Linked DNA regions of Homo sapiens: region 1 is reported to be linked to region 2. The links are microRNA targets in miRTarBase. Many come from high-throughput screens and were not tested one by one. Region 2 holds a microRNA gene; the other region holds the end of a gene's coding sequence.
Evidence for each region. The annotated mature microRNA hsa-miR-7110-3p reads UCUCUCUCCCACUUCCCUGCAG and lies in region 2 at 1,926-1,947, shown strand. An mRNA with a match to its seed (bases 2 to 7 or 8) in the 3' UTR can be bound and repressed. Matches are read on the target gene's strand: a 7mer-m8 pairs with bases 2 to 8, a 7mer-A1 pairs with bases 2 to 7 and ends in A, and an 8mer does both.

Region 1: the mRNA of SS18 is a reported target of hsa-miR-7110-3p. Seed matches in the 3' UTR shown: 8mer at 1,514-1,521, 8mer at 1,512-1,519 and 7mer-m8 at 1,511-1,517.

Annotation. Positions count from the first base shown.
Region 1 is chr18:26,015,285-26,018,694 of GRCh38, forward strand. SS18 (SS18 subunit of BAF chromatin remodeling complex) reads right to left here. Exons shown (of 11, transcript NM_001007559.3): 11 at 969-3,096. The coding sequence ends at 3,070. Among named protein-coding and RNA genes, the nearest start is that of SS18, 74 kb to the right of the region's middle.
Region 2 is chr3:123,159,933-123,163,342 of GRCh38, forward strand. It overlaps MIR7110 (microRNA 7110), which reads left to right and starts at 1,862; the gene lies at 1,862-1,947. It overlaps PDIA5 (protein disulfide isomerase family A member 5), which reads left to right. Exons shown (of 17, transcript NM_006810.4): 16 at 1,389-1,523; 17 at 1,948-2,172. The coding sequence ends at 2,028.

The DNA.
Region 1 (3,410 bases), not on the chromosome of region 2:
TTTCTATTTGGGGGTTAGTGTATGAACAATCAGAAGTTTCGCCATGAGTTGCTAAGTATATAAATTGGGTTAACATTACATGGGGGCCCATCGCACCATACTCTGCTCTACACTTGGGTGTATGTTTAAAAATTCCATTAAAAAATTTTAAGAGAAAACCAAAAACAATGTGCCACCTGAATAATGCTACAGAATAATAACATATTCCCAAATAACAGAACTAACACACTTAGCATATTTTGAAATGTTTAATAGTGACCCCACTCTTTTCTTGGTAATACTTTGTTTCTGGAATTTTATGGGATAGTATGATATTATTACTTCGATAAAATGCAAATTTCAGTTGTAGAATATATAGTCTGTACAGAAATGTCAAATCTAGTAGACAGCTACTGGTAAAGTTATTCCTCTTACTAGGTATCAGAGGAGTAAGGTAATTTTTGTCACCACCAATTAAAAACTTTTACAAAATAGGACTGTTATAAAACAATTAAACCTTGCAAATGCACTAGTCTCCAGGAAGAAAGTCCTGGAGGAAATTCTGCTTATTAAAATTGCAATTTTAGTTTCCATTAAAAGGAGAATAAGACAACAGAAGATGGGTTGGCAAGACAAATTATTTCTTAATGTCAGTTGAGCTTATTTCAAATGAGATAACGTACTACACCAGGTTGGGTTCAGTACAATTTTGTCTCCTCAACTCATTTATCTAATTCAGTCATCTTGATTATAGCCTTATGGACTTCATTTTCGGAGAAAGAATTCTGTAACAAACAGCCTACACAACATGCTGATTACTGAACGGTTAATTCTAATTAACTTGGGCATGGCAAGAGAATTTTGATAAAGTCCTAGAATACAAATATAGTCTGCTTATACTGGACTAACTTATATAAAAACCCACAGCATAGTCTCCAGACAAGACAAGAGAGTCAAAGAGATCTAATTTAAAGAAACAAATGAGAAAATTAAAATCACAAATAATTTATTCTTCCGTTAGAGTTGATACAGTTTTAAATAGCAACAAAGTACACAGTGGTGGAAAATTGGCACAGAACCTACAAGCATTTCAATCACAATAAGGCTGTCCATGATTTATCTGTTCAAACTTGATGTCCATTTTCTACTGATCAAGTTGAAAGAAAAAACCTATTCTGGCCAGGCACGGTGGCTCACGCCTGTAATCCCAGCACTTTGGAAGGCCGAGGCGGGTGGATCACCTGAGGTCAGGAGTTCGAGACCAGCCTGGCCAACATGGCGAAACCTCGTCTCTACTAAAAGTACAAAAATTAGCTGGGTGTGGTGGCGGGTGCCTGTCATCCCAGCTACTCAGGAGGCTGAGGCAGGAGAACTGCTTGAACCTGGGAGGCGGAGGTTGCAGTGAGCTGAGATTGCGCCACTGCACTCCAGCCTGGGCGACAAGAGCAAGACTCCATCTCAAAAAAAAAAACAAAGAACAAAAAACAAAAACAAAAAAACCTGTTCTGACCTTGAAACACACAAACACACACTCTCTCTCTCATACACACACAGAGACCCACTGAAATTCCTCCTTTTGATTACAGTATGTTGAGAACAGTATGTTCTGCTTATTCAAATTTATGACGCCCCTTCTGTTTTGTTTCCAGTTAGACGTGGGAAAAACCAATTCAATTATAAAGAATACATCTTATTCCCTGGGCATAGGCAACTGTGATGAAAATAGCAACTTACCTTTGGGCTAGATGTTTTCAGATTATGCTTAAATAACCGTGGTTAGAAATTTTTCAATGCATGCTTTCCTGCCCCACGCAATCTCCCTGAATTTAGCTAAAATAATCAGGCACAGGACAGTCTCAAATAATGATTAAAATATGCCATGCTAATAAACAAGGTTATCTAGAATGCAACCTCGGTGCTTTAAAAACAGATAGAATAAACCTCATCAATAAGCATTTTCCTAAATATCTCTTTGTGTTATATCAACCAACATAAAAAAGGGAAAAACATAAAAGTGTCCCTTTATAAATGATATTATTTCCAGATAAGAAAGTTGAAACAAAGGTTTGTAAAGTCTCCTGAACTATTCAGTTTAATAACCAATTATCCCTCAATATTACAAAATAAAATGACTGGATCAATGTTGACTCTTCTTTGATATCATTTATAAAATGCTTTGATATTACTTACTAAGTTCCCTGATAACTCAAACAAGGTAAAATTAACACTTTCATTTTCAGTTATTGCTATTTTAGAAGAGGATTACCACTTTCATTTAGATGAAACTGTTTTACCAAAGCCTCCTCAGATCCAACACAAAGTAATTCTTATTGCCTCACATTTTAAAACAGTATTATAAATGATCTTTATAAAAAGGTTTAATCCACAAAACTGGAAGGCTTTTAAAAAATGTCTTTTTACTCAAAACTGTATCACAGTGCCCTTGATTATCTAATAGATAAAAGGGATTTGAATTTCCTCTATGAGAACAGAACAGTGGACATATGGTGTGCTTTGTCTTCCCCTCACCTTTATCTTTATAGCACACCATTTTGAGACCAAAACAATCAAGCATCTACCATGTTCCAGTCCACATTAACAGAGGATTTCTGATGCTGTCCAGTGCGTAGTGTACCGCCTTGCATATTCACCACATGAAATAAACATAATATACAAAATATTGCTGCTGTAAAAAGTGTACATTTCCCTCTTCCCCTTACAAAAAAATCTGTGGAAAAGTATTAAATTCCCTTACCCTTCATAAACATACAAAGCTGTTCACACCTTTCAGTCTGTAACAGTCCATTTGAAACACAGTTCCAAAATCATTACAAATTGGTTATGTCATTGCATTTTCTGTCCAATGTTGCCATCTAGAGTAGAAATGTGAAATCAAGAGTATTTTTGAGCTACTAAAGCCTTTTATAACTAAACCACAAAGGCTGCTTACTGATGAAACAGCCACTTATCCACAAGGTTTTTCCAAAAACTAGATGGAATGGAAGGATCTCTTCACAGGGAGGTGTCCACAGTGCTGAGGTGACAATATGGCTGCTAATAGATACTGGCTACTGGAATGTAAGTACTTTTTCACTGCTGGTAATTTCCATACTGTCCCTAAAAGATAAATTTAAAAATATAATTAGATAATAGTTTGACCATAACAGGCAAAGAAGATTACAAACGAATCATTTCTAACACTGTCATACCACAAAAAAGCAGCCGTACCTACAATAAACAAAATTTTTTTATATCGTTAGGTATACAGTATCACCCTGTAATTTCTTCTGATATTATATTCAATTGCAAATGAATTTCATAGTCCAAAATATGCTAGGGATTAGCAAATGAGCCTAGAATAATACTTGTCAGAGTGGGAACTTAAATGTTTAGTGAATTTTGTTGAATGAATTGAGCAGGCATTGAGTGAG
Region 2 (3,410 bases):
CCAAATGCAAATAACCATCAACCAAAGAACTGTGTGAATCATGGTTATTCAATAATTTTAAATTATCTTATTGAATCACCCTCTTTTAATTTCTTCCAAGCATTCATTGAGCTCTATCTAAAATGATCTAATTTGTCATACAGCAGACGCTTGATAACTGGACTTTGTCAAGGTCGACGTTGTCCCCCAGCATCTAGAACAGGCTTGGCACACGGCAGGGTTTCAGTGTGTGTTGCCTGGTAGGAGGACTCATTCTCATGGGAATCTGCCCCATCTTCCATAACACCTCTGTACTGGGTATGGCCATTGAGGACCCCTTCTCGGGCTTCCCTGGTGCATGACCCTCAACCGGAAACAAGTTCCCCATTTCTGCTTTATACTGTCTTCCTTTGAAAAAACAACAAATGATGAGGAAAAGCTACCCAGCATGTGGAATTTGCTAGATGGTCAAGAAGAGGCCAGTGGCCAATGTGGGAACCACTTTCTGACCAAACATTCTGATGGCTTTACTCATGCGGGGCTCCTCCAGTTTCCAGATGTGCTTCCCTGGTCTCCTCCTCTTCCAGTCTTGGCTCAGATGGCGAATCATACAGAGCGCCTTTGCCCCACTCACCTGGCACCTGGACCACCTCCCTCATCCCTCACATCACATCATGTTGGAATTGTCCCTTTATCCAACCCCTGCCCAGACACTGAGCCCCTAAGTGGGGACAGAGCTTGTATATGGGGTTGGAAGAAGTGACTGTAATAGCAGCTGACATTTCCTGACCATGAATCTGGTGCCAGGTTCTGTGCTCACTGGCCTCACTGGAATTCTCTTATTCAGTCTTCACAATATCCTGATAGCCTAGATACTATTATTATCCCCATTTTACAGCTGAAAAAAATGAGGCACCAAGAGGCTGAGTTATTTTCCTTAAGTCTTACTGTCCAGGCAAACCAAGAGTGCACTTGGGGAACTTGACTTGAAAGCTCTTGCCCTTAACCTTGGCACTATACTGTCCCCCCAAGCTAATGTTCCGGAAATATTAGTGGAGAAATGATTAAATCCTACAGTCCCTTACAGATAGCACCACAGAACCTGTGGTGTTTACAAATGCTTTCAAGTCATCATTTCCTTTACGATCATCATACTCTTGATTTTAAAGGACAGTCTAAAGGCACTCCAGGCCGAGTCCCCTAACCTTACCCATCTGGAAATTGAAAACAAGCACCATCAGTCTCCAAGGAGTCCTGAGCTGGGGGTGCTTTGGTTCAGTTCCTACCTGCCACTGAGGAGAAAAATCAGAGTGGGCCTGTGACGTGGACTAGATGTGCAATCTGTGTTGTGGGGTCCAGGCCTCAGCCTGGGGACACCCTGTGCCAACTCTCTTTACCTTGGCTCCTAGATTGCCTGTGCCGCTGTTGACTGTGTCAAAGACAAGAACCAAGACCTGTGCCAGCAGGAGGCGGTCAAGGGCTACCCCACTTTCCACTACTACCACTATGGGAAGTTCGCAGAAAAGTATGACAGCGACCGCACAGTAAGTGGGGGAGAGGCGTCTGCCCAGAGCTCTCTCTCTGCTGATGGGCAGGGAAACTTCCACTGAGGAGGGGCAGCACTGGGCAGCATCCCAGAAACTGCAGAAGTCAGCTGGAACACTGCACCGAGAGGCCCAGGCCCTGGGCCTGGCTGAGGCTTGACATTGTTGGAGGAGAGTCCCAAGGGGTTGCCACAGATGTCCTGTCCCCAGAGGCAGGCTGGACTCCAGATGCCGAGGGTTTTCTCACTTGCTGGTCGGGGCTGGTGCAAGCCACGCAGACCCTCTCCACCTTGCAGAAGTCTGCCCACCTCTCCCTGTCATAGGAGTGACCCCCTGGAGGGGCTGGGGGTGTGGGGAGAGAGAGTGCACAGCCAGCTCAGGGATTAAAGCTCTTTCTCTCTCTCTCTCTCCCACTTCCCTGCAGGAATTGGGATTTACCAATTATATTCGAGCCCTCCGGGAGGGAGACCATGAAAGACTAGGGAAAAAGAAGGAAGAGTTATAATTCCTGCCTCAGAAAAAGCTTTTCCATTACACTGTGAATGATACCTGTTTTGTTGTTTCTGAATTTCCACATGTTCTGAAGACAAATTTTTTATAGCCGCTTATGGCCATTTTGTACAATTTTGAAATAAAATTAAACCATTTATTTGGTGGTATGGTTTATTTTCGTGGAGCCTGTACTAAAAAAGGTGGATACTCACATCCTCCTCATTCCACCACCTCTGCTGGGAGGTACAGAGCAGTGCTCCAGTGCCCCATCTGCATGGAGGTGACTCCTGAGGGTGTCGGCCCCCTGTCAGTCATTTGAGAGCAGAACAGGGAAACTGGACCGCAGAATATCCTGCTGGAAAATGACAAGCTAATGAGAGGAAATACGTCAAGATGATCAATGACTTTGGGAGGCTGAGGTGGGAGGATCACTTGAAGCCAGGTGTTCAAGACCAGCCTGGGAAACATTATGAGACCTCATGTCTACAGAAAATAAAGTTGCTGGGCATAGGGGTACATGCCTATAGTCCCAGCTACTTGTAAGGCTGGGAAGGGAAGATTTCTTGAGCCCAGGAGTTCAAGGCTGCAATGATCTATGATCGCATGACTACTCCAGCCTAGCTAGAAAGCAAGACCTGTCTCAAAAATAGAAAAAGAAAAAGAAAGAAAAAAACAAAAGATGATCAGGGAAATTGGGATGCTGAAGCAAATGGTAACCAAACACTAGCTTCTTCTGGATCATTGCGGTTTCAGCATTGGTGTGTTTCCTCTGTGTGTGTTTTCCTGGAACTTACTTAGGTATTTATCTTTCTCCAGCTATTTGTCTTCTCTTCGTCTCTCCATTCCCTCCCCAATCTCCCTTTAAAGAAAATTAAGTTGCCGCTTCAGGGGCATGAATGGAGTGGGGGAAGGGGGGCTCTGTGCCAGCTGCTTGCTGTGCACCCTGGCTGGAAGGGATGGTGTGTTCTCGAGGTGCAGATATTAGATCTGCTCACCAGCCCCCACCACCAACCATAATAACCCCAAATCTTTACGCCACGTTTTCCATGGATGGGTGCCTTGCTCGGCCTCCTGCCTGTGTACATCTCCTTTTTGACCCACCTTTCTGGTGAGTCCTCCTGCTTTCTGCATTCCTGCGTGACTGACACCCCAGCCCTGTGCCCAGCGGTGCAGGCAGAGCCTGAGCACAGCAGTAACATGTTTTGTCTGCTTGGTGGTATTTCTCCATGGACAGCAGAGTGGCCTTGTGCTAGTATCTTGTCTTTAGTTATAAGTAGCGGTCCTAGAGTTGGATTCCTCCAGTAGTTCAGGGGGGCGTTGCTTAAGCTGCAGTACTTGGAAGCACGCTCTGGTGGCCTTGATGGGGACTTGGCCTGCAGGAACAGCCCTCCTTTC